2 separate regions of the Homo sapiens genome follow, and region 1 is linked to region 2. A link means that fine-mapping ties the variant in region 2 to the expression of a gene that starts in the linked region. Tissue or cell type: whole blood. Region 2 holds a variant in brackets; the other region holds the start of a gene. All regions are shown on one strand. Distances are between the middles of the regions.

The links. PIP is the estimated chance that this variant, and not a neighbour inherited with it, causes the effect.
Region 1: it holds the start of PTGES, and the variant in region 2 is fine-mapped to the expression of PTGES in whole blood (TOPMed, PIP above 0.99).

The regions. Positions count from the first base shown.
Region 1 is chr9:129,748,227-129,756,311 of GRCh38, forward strand. It overlaps PTGES (prostaglandin E synthase), which reads right to left and starts at 4,816. Exons shown (of 3, transcript NM_004878.5): 1 at 4,661-4,816; 2 at 429-511. The coding sequence starts at 4,786.
Region 2 is chr9:129,772,882-129,780,982 of GRCh38, forward strand. No RefSeq gene overlaps it. Among named protein-coding and RNA genes, the nearest start is that of PTGES, 24 kb to the left of the region's middle. RefSeq lists enhancers at 2,185-2,751, 4,143-4,658, 4,289-4,583. The variant G/A (reference allele first, on the strand shown) is at 4,550.

The DNA of each region.
Region 1 (8,085 bases), 25 kb before region 2:
AAAAAAAAAAAAAGCATAGTACAGACCAGAGGATAAAGGGTGATTCTATGGGGCAGAACGGGAAAAGCGTGGCACACATGTTTGTAAATGCAGCAAATCTCTGTGGGAAGATGCATGGCCATTGGCAGGAGTGTTTGCCCCTGGCCAGTAGAACTGCGTAGTGCCTGGAGGTCAGAGGTAGGAGGGAGACTGAATGTTCACTGAAGTCACCACCTTTCTCACTTTGTAATTATGAGTCATGACCACGTCTTACTTTTCCAAAGTTCATTTGAAATTAAATCATTGAATAAAGTAAAACAGTCAGAGAAGATCAGGAACACAGAAAACCTCAGCCCCTGGGAGTCCTCCAAGTCCCCTGTGTGCAGAAGAAGTTCTGAAAGGGCAGGCCATGGCCAGGTGTGGCCAGGCCAGGGGCCCGAAGTACTTGCCTGAGGCAGCGTTCCACGTCGGGGTCGCTCCTGCAATACTGGGGGCCTCCGTGTCTCAGGGCATCCTCGGGGTTGGCAAAGGCCTGAAATATACCAGTTGAGAGTCACTCCTCGTGAGACAAACGGCCCAGTCACCTGGGGCTATGTTTTGTCCATGACCAGAGTTCACAGTGGCAGGACAGAGGTGCAGTTGCACACACACCCATCCAACCATCATCCACGATTCCTACCCTGTGCCAGGGGCTGGTAGCTCACCATGAAAAGGCCCCCCTGTCTCTGCTTTTATGAAGCTCACAGTCCGATGGGGGAGTTGCCTATGAACCAGGGAAGGCCAGGGTGTCTCACCTGTTAAGAAGAAGGCACGGCTGGCCTTGAGAATGTTTACGTGGGACCTGACCCAGTCTGAGGCTCTGAGAAAGTTTCTCTGAGGCAGTGACATGAAAGCTGAGGCTTAGGGCTGGATGAGGTGGCTCACACCAGTAATCCCAGCACTTCGGAAGGCCAAGGCAGGGGGATTGCTTGAGCCCAGGAGTTCAAAACCAGCCTGGGCAACATAGCAAGACCCCATCTCTAAAACAAGCCAGGTGTGGTGGCTCACGCCTGTGAGCCAAGCACTTTGGGAAGCCAAGATAGGAGGATTGCTTGAGCTTCCAGGAGTTTGAGACCAACCCGGGCAACATAGCAAGACCCCATCTCTAAAACAAACAAACAAGCTGGGTACAGTGGCTGATGTCTGTAATCTCAGCACTTTGGGAGGCCGAGGCAGTTGGATCACTTGAGCTCAGGAGTTCAAGACCAGCCTGGGCAACATGATGAAACCCCCTCTATAAAAAATACAAAAATTAGCTGTGTGTGGTGATACACACCTGTGGTCCCAGCTACTTGGCAGGAGGGCTGAGGCAGGAGGATTGCTTGAGCCTGGGAGGTCGAGGCTACAATGAGCCGTGATCTTGCCACTGCACTCCAGCCTGGGCAACAGAGCCAGACTCTGTCTCCAAAAAAAATAAAACAAACAATCTGAGGCTTGAAAGATGCATTGACATTAACCAGATGAAGGGAGGGCTGGAGCAACAACATTCAAGGCAGAAGGGACAGCACGTGCAAAGGCCCTGAGGCTGGAAGAAGCTGGGCATGTGTGAAGAACAGAAAACCAGCACACGGGAGCACAGAGGGCAAGGGACAGGGGCCCAAGATAAAGGGACAGGGGTCATCAGGGGTCCTGGCAGCACCTGAAGAATTTGGACTTTGCACTAAAAGCCATGAGAAGGTCTTGAGAGCCCCAGGCTGAAAACCCAGCTCCGCGCTGATTAACCACAGGATCCTGAACTCTGAAAACTCAGGAGAAATCACAGCTCATGTGCTGTGTGACGAGTGAGAGGGAGACCTGGAGAAGCCGCTAGGACAATGCCCAGCACAAGGAGGTGCTCAGTGAATTGTCACTTTCTCTCATTGGAAAGCAGAGACATAAAGTCACACTGAGATCATCAGAGGCCCATGACTCTTGCTCCACTGTTCCCTGCTGGCATCCAGACAGTCAGACCCCACCAGGCCCACAGCAGAGCCTGAATCTCAGGAGCAGGTTTTCTAAATTGTTCAGCTGACGGCAAATCCTGTGCTTCTGACTCATGACTGTCCCCCAAGGGCTGGTTTGTCCTCCCTGGTGGGCCTGCCCTGCCCTACCCCAGAGGAGAATGCAGCTCAGATCTTCGAGATTGGAACCTTCACACCCAAAATTCCTCTCTGCTGGCCCTGAAATCAGTGAATCACCAACACCGAAGGCTCTGTCCGTGGATCTGTGATACGTTTCAAGGGGCCTCAGCATACAGTGGGCACTGCCTTTAGGAGTCCACTGCCCATGGAGTTGCTCCCCCTGGAGATACAACTCAGATACAAGTCAGCCAGGCCAGAGCCAGCTGCAGTGCAGGCCAGGAAGCCCCCAGTGTCAGCGGCCGAGGTGCCACCTTAGCTGGGGTGGAGGCCAGCCTTTGGTTGAGGTCCCTTGAAAGTGACCTGAGGCTGCGATGCTCATGTTAATTTCAGTTACTTATAAGTCTTAAGGACAAACATTGGTGGGGCGTTGCATTCTCCTGGCGCTGCTGTCACGACCCCCGTTTACAGGTGAGGACACTGAGCTCCCAGACTTTTCCAGGTCCCCAGGCTGGTGGGTGGAGGAGCCAGGGCCTGTGACTGTCACCTCCAGCAAGTCCTTCCTGGATGATACTTAGCGCCCAGAGCAGAGATAAGAGGGGGCCACGTTGTCATGAGGAACACCTCAGGAGCAGCCCAAGGAGTGGGGGTTTCCTTCTGCGGTGTCCCTGCCAATCAGGCAGAAAGGCTCTGGGACAGGTTCACCTCCTCCCTTCCCCGAATTCGTGTTAAAAGGAAATCACAGCTGGGCACAGTGGCTCACACCTGTAATCCCAGAACTCCAGGAGGCCAAGATGGGAGGATCACTTGAGCCCAGGAGTTTGAGACCAGCCTGGGCAACATGGCAAAAGCCATCTCTACCAAAAACATAAAAAATTAGGAGCAGTGACGCACACCTATAGTCCCAGCTACTTGGGAGGCTGAAGTGGGAGGATCACCTGAGCCCAGGAAGTCGAGGCTACAGTGAGCTATGATCGCACAATTGCACTCCAGCCTGGGCCACAGAGCAAGACCCTGTCTCTAAAATAAATAAATAATAATTAAAAAAAAAAAAAAAAAAGGAATCGCTGGCCTGCTGGTAAGAACCCAGGCCTCAGCCAGGTGCGGTGGCTCACGCCTGTAATTCCAACACTTTGGGAGGCTGAGGCGGGTGGATCACCTGAGGTCAGGGGTTCAAGACCAGCCTGGCCAACATGGTGAAACCCCATCTCTACTAAAAATACAAAAATTAGCAGGGCATGGTGGTGTGTGTCTGTAATGCCAGCTACCGGGGAGGCTGAGGCAGTAGAATTGCTTGAACCCAGGAGGTGGAGGTTGCAGTAAGCAGAGATCATGCCGCTGCACTCCAGCCTGGACAGCAGAAAAAAAAAACAAAACAGAAACCCCCGCCTCCAAGACAGGATGTGGGCTCTGAAGCTGGACACTGGAGTTCAAACCGGGCTGTGTGACCTTCATAAGTGATGTCTCCTCTCTGAGCCCAGGTTCCTCACCTAGAAAACAGGATGACTATGGCGCCTCCCCTGCCCTCAGGGCTGTGGCGGGGATCTCATGCTCAGCTCCGGGCCACATTCGGTCCTCTGGGAAGGATTCAATGAGTGAATGCAGCTGTTCTACTTGATGCCCGGATCCCATATCCCAGGACCAGCCAAGGCAGGGAGAAGTCAGAAGCTATCAGTGTGCTGTAGCCTCCGGGCATCCTATCACTTGGGCAGCTGCCCTGCCTTTAATCCTGCCTGTACCTGCAGCAGGGCCTGAGCCTGGCTTGTGGCCAAGATCCTCACTCCCCAGGATCCACCCGCATGCAGTGCCAGAGCCAGCCTTGCCTCACCTCGCCTTTGAACTGGACACAGGGGAAGACAGAGACAGTTTCAGGAAATGATTGCTTTATTAAAATACCTGGGGAGGAAGTAACAGGTGCCTGGGGTCTTTCTGCATTCTGCCGCCAGGACAGCCGACAAGCTCAGCCTATGACTTTGCAGACTCGCCAACCAGTGTGACGGACGCTACTGGAACTTGCCCCGGCCCAGCTCTGGGACTCGTTAATGTTGTTTTGGTTCAGGGGCTCGGATTAGTGGGGAAATTCCTCGCTGAGCACCCCGACGGTGCCCGGCTGGGAGCTGGCCTTTGGAGGCTACAGTGGGCTTGTTAGTGACATTTGCCAGGAGTTGGGAATTTCCACTTAAACGTTTCTCGGACTCCTGTTTTGCCGGTTCCCACTCCACCCAGATATCAGACCTCCCGTGCCGGGAAGCCACCAGGTTAGACAGAGGCTTTGTGCTGTCACGCTCCCACACTCCACCCTCCAGAACCTGCTTCTCTCACAGACACTCGCTGGCTCTCTCCATGCCAAGAACTCAGCCCGGTGGCACGGCAAGCGAGTAAGTGCTCTTAAGCCAGAGAGGAGAAGGTGCAGGCCTTGCTGACACGTGGGACTGGCAGGAAGCCCCCCGGCGGGGCTGGAAGAGGTGCTCACCTCCCAGCCCTGCACACACCTTGGCCATGTTTCCCTATCCCGGGGCTTTCCTGACAGGACGTGGAGAGAAGCAAGTATGACCCAGGCCGGGGACCCCCAGGGAGGCACATACCTTCTTCCGCAGCCTCACTTGGCCCGTGATGATGGCCACCACGTACATCTTGATGACCAGCAGCGTGCTGCAGAGCAGGAAGGCCGGGAGGGCCGGGCTGCTCATCACCAGGCTGTGGGCAGGCATCTCTGGCCAGCGCAGCTCAACTGTGGGTGTGATCAGCTCGACAGAGGAGCAGCCTGCAGGGAAAGCACAAAGTGGGAGGGGAGAGCCTTCCTGCAGCCAGCACCGCCCACGCCCCGCCCCACGGCAGCGGCAGCAGGGCCCCCTTCTCCTGTGAAGAGAAAGACAAGCAGTTGCCGGAGCTCCAAGAAGCAGAGAGTCTCCGGGTGTCCCGGACCCAGTCCCTGGCTCTGGAGCCCTCCTTCCAGGCAAATCCTCAAACACTTTCAAATCTGTTTCAAAGCTGTTTCCTTATCTACAGTGTGGGAGCATGTGGTGGTGCCTGCCTTCTAGGGAATGATGAGGCTGGGCACCTGGCAGGACCTCTGCACGTGGTGATTATCGCTGCCTCCTGCCCACCTCCGCAGGGTCAGGGTAGGTGGTGGGCATGAGAACCACGCCATGCGCCCCCACACTCAGCCTGGACAATGGAGCTGCAGCCACAATGGCATGACTTTGCCATCTGTGGCAGGCTGAAGGACGCCCTCCACCCCTAAAGACATCCATGTCCCAATCCCTAGAACCCGTGACTGTGACTATGTGGCAAAAGGGACTTTTCACATGGGATTTCGTAAGGATTTGAGATGGGAGAAATTATCCTAGTTTATCTGGGTGAGCCCAGAGTATACAGAGGGGCCCTTCCAAGAGGGAGGCAGTAAAATTAGAGAAAAGATATAAAAACAGAGGCAGCATTAAGAGAGGAGATGAAAGGACAGAATAGGGGTCAGACAGGAGAGACGCTAACCTGCTGGCCTTGAAGATGAAGGAGAGATCATGGCCCAAGGAATACCAGGGGCCTCTAGAAACTGGAAAAGGGGACGAAACAAACTCTCTGCGTTCAGACAGAACGCAGCCCTCCCGACACTTTGATTTTAGCCCTGTGAGACCCATTTCAGGCTTCATCCACCAGAACTGTCAGAGAATGAAGCTGTGTTGTTTTAAGCCACTAAGTCTGTGGTAATTTGCTATAGCAGGGATGGGGAACCAGCACGTGGCTCCACTGACTTCCTGAGCATCACTTGACTATCCTGGAACTCTTTCCCCAGTCAAATGCTTTGATTCTTCATCACAAGATCTCCCCGAAAGACCTATCAACTGACTCTTCAGTAGAAAGCATCACCAGGCCGGGCGCGGTGGCTCACACCTGTAATTCCAGCCCCTTGGGAGGCCAAGGGGGACAGATTACCTGAAGTCAGAAGTTCAAGACCAGCCTGGGCAACATAGGGAGACTCCGTCTCTACAAAAAAATGTTTTAATTAGCTGGGCATGGTGGTGCTCGCCTGTATTCCCAGCTACTCAGGAGGCTGAAGTGGGAGGATCACCTGAACCCAGGAGGCTGAGGCTGCAGTGAGCCATGTTCTCACCACTGCACTCTAGCCTGGGTGACAGAGCAAGACCCTGTCTCAAAAAAGAAAGAAAGCATCAACGTTTGTTTTCTAAGATTCTTTGAATCCCTCACCTCAAAATCCTCACCTTGGCCAGGTGGCTCACACATGTAATCCCAGCACTTTGGGAGGCCGAGGGGGGCAGATTATCTGAGGTCAGAAGTTCGAGACCAGCCTGGCCAACGTGGTGAAATCCCCTCTCTACTAAAAATACAAAAATTAGCCAGATGTGATGGCAGACACCTGTAATCCCAGCTACTTGGGAGGCTGAGGCGGGAGAATCGCTTCAACCTGGGAGGTGGAGGTGCAGTGAGCCAAGATTGCACCACTGTACTCCAGCCTGGGCGACAGACCGAGACTCTGTCTCAAAAAAAATCCTCACCTTGCTGCATCCTGCCCGCTTCCCCGGGTTCTGGCAGGACCTCCACAAGGTCAGGGATCTTTTTTTTTTTTTCTTGTGAGACAGACTCCTGCTCTATCACCCAGGCTGGAGTGCAATGGCGTGATCTCTGCTCACTGCAACCTCCACCTCCAGGTTCAAGCAATTCTCCTGCCTCCGCCTCCCAAGTAGCTAGGACTACAGGTGCCCACCACCACGCCCAGATAATTTTTGTATTTTTAGTAGAGACGGGGTTTCACCATGTTGGCCAGGATGGTCTCAATCTCTTGACCTTGTGATCCACCCACCTCGGCCTCCCAAAGTGCTGGGATTACAGGCATGAGCCACCGCACCTGGCCAAGGGCAGGGATCTTGTACACGGTTCTTGCTCATTTATTTTCGCCAACATATTTGGCTTTGCTGAGAGGTGCCCTGGGGAAGTGGGGCAAAGGGGAAAGGGAGAAACCAGTCTCCCATGCCTACTTCACTCTTGGGCTTGACCAGGTGCTTTGGGACAGCACCTGCCCAGAGAGACAGCTGTGTCAGTCCAACCTATGCCCCAAAGCAGCAGAGATCAAAGGGAAGATTGGCCAGAGCTAGATTTAGCCAGCCTCGAATCCCAAAGCCAGCCCTCAGCTGTAGCTGTGTGGCCTTAGGCAGGCAGGTTCCTCCTCTGAACCAGTTTCCTCAGCTGTAAAATGCAGCTGACCCTAAGTCACTCCCCAGCGCAGTTGTGGGAGCTAAATAATTATGAAGCCCCTGGAACAAGTAGGCACTCCGTTCAGTATCATCCTCTGAGCTTCCGTTTCCTCCTGCTCAAAGGGAATAATGATCCCTACCTAGTAGGGTTGTCAGGAGGGAGACTCATAGAAATCCCTGCCCTTGTTGCTGGGGGAGGTGGGTGTGAGCAAGGTGGGGGTGGTGCCTTGCCCATTTGCTGTGTGCCAAGCAGTCCTTTATCCGAACAAAAGATGTGCTTGATAAACTGACTCCCGTGGGGAACTGCCAGGCCAGGCTGTCCCGGCCCCACAAGATAAATGATAGGTCACCATACCATCAGGGACGGAACATGGAAAGTACAAGATGCCCTGAGACACGTTTTATCTCTGGTTGTCTGTTGGAGGAGCTGTGCAAGCTCGCTTCTGGCTGATATTTCTGTCGGAGAAGAGAGAATCCCTGCCTCTCTCGCCCCCAGCCCGTGGGAACCCCTGCAGGTAGCTACCTTCCTTGTCAAAAAGCTCAGCTATGAGGTTGGGGTCTGGTGGCTGTACCACCCCCAGAATCGTGGACCAGACACAGCCCAGGAGGGGCCCTTTGGTTGTCCTCCTTGGACTAGGGAGAGTGGCTCTTCCCTGACTGGTCTTCTGAAATAACAAGATAGAAAGCAGAGGCTGGGAAAACCAGCTTGGGGCAAAGAGCAGACGATCACCTCCCGCTACCCTGAGCCGAAAATAGGGGAGAGACTGTGTAGGGGAATTCGTATAACTGATGGACATGAT
Region 2 (8,101 bases):
CTATGCTGGCCAGGCTAGTCTCGAACTCTCACCTCAAGTGATCCACCCACCTTGGCCTCCCAAAGTGCAGGGATTACAGGCGTGAATCAGCGTACCCTGCCACATTAAACCTTTTTTTTTTTTAGACAGAGTCTGGCTCTGTCACCATGCTGGAGTGCAGTGGTATGATGTTGGCTCACTGCAACCTCCGCCTCCCAGGTTCAAGTGATTCTCTTCCCTCAGCCTCCTAAGCAGCTGGGACTACAGGCGTGCGCCACCACACCTGGCTAATTTTTGTATTTTTAGTAGAGACAGGGTTTCACCATGTTGGCCAGGATGGTCTCGATCTCTTGATCTCATGATCCACCCACCTCGGCCTCCCAAAGTGCTGGGATTACAGGTGTGAGCCACCGCACCCAGCCACATTAAACTTTCTTGACCCATTTGCAGACAAGGGGAATCCGAGTCCTGGAGAGGCCAAGTAACCTGCCCACGATGGCCCATCAGCTAAGGAGCAGGAAGGAGAGAAGCTCTGAGCCCCTGCCTGGTTACCACCAGGCTCTACTGCTTCCTAGCTGAGCACCATACTGAGCCTCACTTCTTCCTTCTCTAAAATGGACATGATAATAGACCTTCCTCCTAGGATTACTGAGATAGTCCAGGTAGGAAATCATACCTGGTGTTACATGTAAGCTATCACTGCTATTGGTATTGCTGTTGTTATTTCAACAACTGAGACTCAACCAGGCCAGGCTAATCCCAGAGGCAAAGCTTTTATGCAGAGGACAAGCTTTTAACCAGTCCCACCAGCTAAAAGGGGTAGAAAGTGAGTAAACCAACCACATTTACTCTGAGACAGTCAACAAATACACAGCAGCCGCTTAGGACACACAAGGAAGTTAACTCATCCCCCTCATGACCTTGGGTCGCCAGGGTTAGATGTGCTTCTGCCAACATAGCCCGAGGAGGAGGGAGTGTTTTGTGGGAGCCGCTTAACACCCTGTCCTCCGCACCCGGTGAGGTCAGCACCCACTTTCCCACAACTATTGGGTAAACATACACCCAGCAAACCCTGCCTGAGGCCCAGGGCCAGGGACTCACGTGTGAAGGTCTGCAGCCTTCCACTGACTATTAGTGCAATGGGGTAGAGACTGGTAGAGAAAGCATTGTCTCAGGCTGGGTGCAGTGGCTCATGCCTGTAATCTCAGCACTTTGGGAGATCGAGGCAGGAGGATCACTTGAGCCTTAGGAGTCTGAGACCAGCCTGGGCAATACAGGGAGATCTTGTCTCTACAAAAAGTTAAAAAAAAAAAAAATAGCCAGGCATGGTGGTGTATGTCTGTGGTCCTAGCTACTTAGGAGGCTGAGGAGGGAGGATCACTTGAGGCTGGGAGGTCGAGGCTGCAGTGAGCCATGATCATGCCACTGCACTCCAACCTAGGTGCAAGAAAGAAAGAAAAGAAAGAGAGAAAGAGAGACAGAGAGAAAGAAAGAAAGGAAGAAAAAAGAAAGAAAGAAAGAAACAAAGAAACAAACAAACAAAGAAGGAAGGAAAGAAACAAAGAAAGAAAGAAACCAACAAAGAAAGAAAGAAAGAAGGAAGGAAGGAAAGAAAGAAAGAAACAAAGAAAGAAAGAAAGAAAGAAAGAAAGAAAGAAAGAAAGAAAGGAAGGAAGGAAGGGGAGAGAGAAGGAAGGGAGGGAGGGAGGGAGGGAGGGAGGAAGGAAGAAAGGGAGGGAAGGATGGGTTTGTCTCTCAACGTAAGAACCAAAATGAAGACATGTGTGTCTACCAGGTGAGGAGAGAAGTACGGAGAAGAAAGGGGAGGGTTGGTGGGTCCCCCAGGAGCCTGGTTGGCTGGTTGGAAACCAGAGGGTGTACTGGACAAGGCCCAGAATGCGGACCTGCCTGGGCCCCAATAAGGGGTCCCTCCCCATCCACAGGTAGACGCATCGCCCCGAGGTAGACACATGTCCCCTAGGGAAGAAGCCTTCGGCTACTCCTCACGTGCAAGTCACATGCTCCTCTCCCTGCTGGCACCACCATGGCCACAGCTGATGGGCAGGGGTGAGCACCTGGCTGCAAGCAGCCAATGGCGAGGCCAGCCAGCAGCCAATGAAATCAACAGCCCGATGTGGGCCTGGGCTGAGACCCACCCCCCAGAGGAGGCTGGGCTCGTGGCCAAGGACTCGGCTGCCAGCAGCAGGAGCGGCCACAAGAATGTGTACCCCTGGGGATGACAAGAAGCCCCTACAGTGAAATCCACTTCGGCTCTTCACGGGCCCTGGGGTCTTCACCTGGGTCCTGTGCCCACGAGGTCTTGGGCCCCAGCATCCTCACAGTAAACCCCTTTATCCCGGGGTCCTCAGTGCACGTCTGGCCCAGCAACGGCAATGAAACCAACAAACTGCCACACACTAGAGCTGGGTCCTGCGGCTCTGCCACCTGCTCTGTCAAACGCTGGGGTCCCCAGAAGCCACGGCCCCTGCCAAAGGTCATTTTGGGTCTCATTTGTCATCTGGGTACTTAGGGTAAAACGATATTTTCTGTGCAAGCCCCTCATTGCTTCCCTGTCTCTCCCATCCCCTAACTCCACCACCATGAAGGCCTCCCTGCTCTCACCCACTCCAAGAGCTGGATTTTCCCTGGCACAGAGAGCATAGCACCGACCCAGACAAGCCCTTTGCCACATGCGTCCTGCCAGGCATGATTCTGGCCACAAGGATGCATCAACTGCCACTGGAGCTGTGGGTGTGTTGTCACTGTGAAGCACATTGCAGCAGCAGCTGAGAGGAGAGACCAACCAGCACCCTGGGGAGGGGGCTGCATGCAGAGGTTGGGAAGTCACACTTTGGCTTCAAGCCAAGCAGAAGATCTGGCCCAAGAAAACAGGCTCATACCTCCTGGACAGGGTGGCCAAGAGACAGAGCTTCAGCTCAGGCTGGGACGCCAGTTGGGCAATAAAATTAATGACAATAATTATTATTATATAACAATGTTGATGACATTACTGGCCAACTTTACCTGCCAGACACTATGCTTGGTGCTTTATGTAGATCAGTTCATTGCCCTCATGTAGCAATCCTAGGAGGTGGGTCTATTATTATCTCTATTTTATTTTATTTTATTTTATATTTTTTAGAGGCAGAGTCTTGCTCTGTCACCCAGGCTGGAGTGCAATGGTGTGATCTTGGCTCACTGCAACCTCTGGCTCCCAGTCTCAAGCAATTCTCCTGCCTCAGCCTCCCGAGTAGCTGGGACTTCAGGTGCGTGCCACCACACCTGGCTAATTTTTTTTGTATTTTTTAGTAGAGACAGGGTTTCACCATGTTTGCCAGGCTGGTTTTGAACTCCTGACCTCAGGTGATCCACCTGCCTTGGCCTCCCAAAGTGCTGGGATTACAGGCATGAGCTACCTCGCCCGGCCTAATATCCCCATTTTAGAGATGAGAAAATTGAGGTTCAGAGGAGTGACATGACTTAACCAATGTCTGTGCTAAACTACAGTAAGATAGATAGATAGATAGATAGATAGATAGATAGATAGATAGATAGATAGATAGATAGATACCTATGTCTAACTACCTACCTACCTACCTATTGACCTATCTACCTACCTACCAACCTGCCTATCTCTCTATCTATGTGATATATATGAAAAAGACTCTTCAGAGAACTGACTCTGCTGATGCCCAGAATAGGGTGCGGGAGACTCATCAAGCTGATCTCCCATGCTGGGCCCAGCTGGATGTTCTGACTTTACCCAGAGTATCCAGATTTCAATTAACTATCTCGGAACCACAGTAAAGGAGCGTGTGCGCTATAGTTGATTGCTCAGCCCGAGCACAGGGCTGGGTAATCTTACTCCCAGAGGGTTCTGAGGTTGGAGCCTGGAATGGACCAGCTCTCTCCCTTGCCATTCAGCCCCACCCCCACCCCTGGAGCCAGGGACTCAAGCAGCCCAGCTTGACAGTCCTGGGAGGCCTGACCCCCGGCTGGGATCTCGTCATCAGCAATGCACCCAGGCTCTGGGGACAGCATGGTCTAGGGCCTCTGAATTGGCCATTATCCTAGCGGGAAGAAATGCTTCTCCCTCCAGGCTGAAAGCTGTCTTTGCTCCCAGTGATCACTTGCTCCCCAGCTCTGCACAGATTGACCCGCACACCTAGGCAGGCAAACACAGCAGTCCTAAGACCAAGAGCCAGGGTGAGGCCCTGGCAGAACAGCCATTGGAATGGGATGCCGGAGTGTCCCCAGATGGCGCCCGGGGGTGGGGTGGACCTCTTGCCACAGCAGAGTCTCCAACTGGAGCCTGGGGTTCACCCAAGACAGCCGTGGCCCTCCCTCTCACCACTTACCCCGTCCCCAGGCGCCTCTGCCTGAGCTCATCAGGCAATGACCGCAGTGACGTCACCCGGGAGGCCACGGCCAGCTTGAAATCCAGGGAGCTCCAGGATCCTGCCTGCTCCTCCCTCTCTCTCTAGCATGACTCAGGCAGGGACTGGCCCTGGGCTGCGGAAAGGCTCTCCACTTTTACACAATTGCTTTCCTCACTCAAACCACAGGCCCT[G/A]TGGGGGCCCCCTCCTCTGTCTCTCAACCCTCTGCGGTTAGGGTTCAGATGCTGGGCAGATGAAGACCCTGTTTGCTGCGAGAAGCCAAGACCAAGCCTCAGGAAATTGCCACAGTGAAGGGAAGCTTCCTCCGGAGACACCCTCTGCCTTGCACTACTGGGTCCCGTCAGAGCTTCTTCATCCTCCCTCCTCCCTCCTCCTCTTCCCATCTCCTCCTCCCCTTTCCTCTTCTCTAACCAAGAAAGTGACTTGATAACTAAATTCAACTTGTTAGTGACAGGACCTATGATTTTTCCAAAGGGTTGCTATATTTCTGAAAAACAAAGTCTGGTAGTAGAACATGTGTTCATTCATTCATTCATTCACGGAGGCGTGGAAGAGCAGTTAAAATCACGGTCAGACACCCTGTGGGTGTGTCCCAGCTCCTCTGCCATTCGCCACCTTTGCAACCATGGCCCAGTGACTTCCAGTCACTCCCCCATCCCCTCATGTGGGCTATGTTCTGGCTTGTTAAGATGAGGCTTGCTGGGGGCTCCCGGCAGTTAGGACCCGCCCAGGGCAAGGTGATGATTAGGAGAAAGGCTGAGGCTGGGCGAGGTGGCTCACGCCTGTAATCCCAGCACTTTCGGAGGCCTAGGCGGGAGGATCACATGAGGTCAGAGGTTCGAGACCAGCTTGGCCAACATGGTGAAACCCCATCTGTACTAAAAATACAAAAAATTAGCTGGGCGTGGTGGCCGGCACCTGCAATCCCAGCTACTCGGGAGGCTGAGGCAGGAGAATCGCTTGAACCTGGGAGGCGGAGGTTGCAGTGAGCTGAGATCGTGCCACTGCCCTCCAGCCTGGGTGACAGAGCAAGAATCTGTCTCAAAAAAAAAAAAAAGAAAAGAAAAGAAAAAAGAAAGAGGATGTCTCCAAAGGAGATGGGAGGGTTCTAGAAACCCAAATAGTAGAGTAGTAGAGACAGGCCCCAGGGGTGGAGAGGCCCAGGAAGGCAGATTTCTCCTTAATCACAAGGAAAGAAAGAACATTTTCTAGCAACAGAGAGGCTCTGGGGACATGGGATGCACAGCCTCAGGCCCACCTATCACTGAACATGTTCCAGCGTCCTGCAGAGGAGGGAGGCAGGCCTTGGAAAGTTCAGATTCCCCAAAGAGGAATGCATGGAAGCTTCTTTCCCTGCTGTCTACCTTAGTCAGCTCAGGCTGCCATAATAAAATGCCATTGCCAGGTGTGATGACTCACACCTGTAATCTCAGCACTTTGGAAGCCTGAGGCAGAAGGATCACTTGAACCCAGGAGTTCAGGACCAGCCTGGACAACATAGCAAGACCCCATCTCTAAAAAAAAAAAAAAAATAGCTAAGCGTGGTGGCATGCACCTGTAGTCCCAGCCACTTGGGATGCTGAAGCAGGAGGATGCCCTGAGCCCAGCCGTTTGAGGCTGCAGGGAGCCATGATGGTACCACTGCACTCCAGCCCAGGTGACAAAACAAGACCTTGGCTCTAAAATAAATAAATAAATAAATAAAATGCCACAGATTGGGTGCTTAAACAACAGGAATTTATTTCTTATGTTTGTGGAGACTGGGAAGTCCAAGATCCAGGTGCCTTCTCACTGTGTCCTTACATGGTGAGAGAGAGTAGAAGGAAGTTCCCTGGTGTCTCTTTTTATAAGGGTACTGATCCAATCTTGAGGGCCCCACCCTCATGACCTTATCAAACCCTAATCACCTCCGAAAGGCCCCAATCTCCAACGCCATCACATTGGGGATTTGGAGTTTGACGCACAAATTCTAGGGGGACACAATTCGGTCCTTAGCAAAAGGCCCCAATGGGTGTCTGCCCTGCCTCTCAGAACTGCACCCCACACCAGCAAAAGGGGGTGGCAACCTCCATGCTAGATTCCAATAGTATGTATGTATACATGTATGTATGTATGTATGTATGTATGTATGTATGTATGTATGTATTTATTTATTGAGATGGAGTTTTGCTCTTGTCGCCCGGCTGGAGTGCAGTGGTGCGATCTCAGCTCACTGCAACCTCCACCTCCTGGGTTCAAGCAGTTCGCCTGCTTCAGCCTCCCAAGTAGCTGGGATTACAGGCGCCTGCCACCAGGCGCCAGGGAAAAGACAAAGAAAGAAAAAGAAAGAAGAAAGAAAGAAAAAAGAGAGAGAGAGGGAGAGAGGAAGGAAAGAAGGAAGGAAGAAAGAAAGGAAGGAAGGAAAGAAGGGAAGGAGAGAGGGAAGGAAAAGAGACAGACAGAAAGAAAGAAAGAAAGAAAGAAAGAAAGGAAAAAGAGAGAGAAGGAGGGAGGGAGGGAAGGAAAAGACAGAGAAAGAAGAAAGAAAGAAAGAGGGAGAGAGGAAGGAAAGAAGGGAAGGAGGAGGGAGGGAAGGAGGGAGGGAGGGAAGGAAAAGACAGAAAGAAAGAGAAAGAAAGAAGAAAGAAAGAGGAAAGAAAGAAAGAAAAGAGAAAGAAAGAAAGAGAAAGAAAGGAAGGAAGAAAGAAAGAAAGGAAAGAAGGAAGGCAGGGGAGGGAGGAAGGAGGAAGGAAGGATTGATTGATTTTAAAAATGATTATTTAGGATCAGGCGCGGTGGCCTGTAATCCCAGCACTTTGGGATGCTGAGGCGGGCGGATCACCTGAGGTCAGGAATTCGAGACCAGCCTGGACAATATGGCGAAATCCCATCTCTACTAAAAACACAAAAATTGGCTGAGCGTGGTGGCCCATGCCTGTAATCCCAGCTGCTCAGGAGGCTGAGGAGTGAGAATCTCGAACCCAGGAGGCAGAAGTTGCAGTGAGCTGAGATTGCACCATTGCACTCCAGCCTGGAGGACACCACCTCTCTCCATAAAATGTGGGCAGTGGCACCTAGCAGAACGTTCTGAGGATTAAATGAGATTCAGGGTGCACTGCACTTTCCCCAGGCGCCTGGCCTGTGCAAGTTTTCACATGGGCTAGCAATGTTCATTAACCTGGATTCAATTCAGTCTGGGTTCTGGCTTCCCAAGACAACGAAATGCAAGGTTTAATCCTTGATTAGATCTTGAATTTAAAAAACAAAACAGGTTGGGCGTGGTGGCTCACGCCTGTAATCCCAGCACTTTGGGAGGCCTAGGCACGTGGATTACCTGAAGTCAGGAGTTGGAGACCAGCCTGGCCAACATGGCGAAACCCTGTCTCTACTAAAAATACAAAAATTAGCTAGGCATGGTGGCAGGTGCCTGTAATCCCAGCTACTCGAGAGGCTGAGGCAGGAGAATTGTTTGAACCTGGGAGGCGGAGGTTGCAGTGAGCTGAGATTGCGCCACTGCACTCCAGTCTGGGTGACAGAATGAGATCCCATCTCGAAAAAGAAATGAAAAGCAAAGCAAGACGGTATGGGTATTGTGGTTTTGGAAGAGCTCTCCTTAATCTTAGGAGATACATGATGAAGGGTGTAGGGGTGACATTTAAAAATGTCTGCAAAGTGCTTTGAAATAGGTCAGTTAAAAAAAACAAAAAAGAGAGGCCAGGTGTGGTGTGGCTCACACCTGTAATACG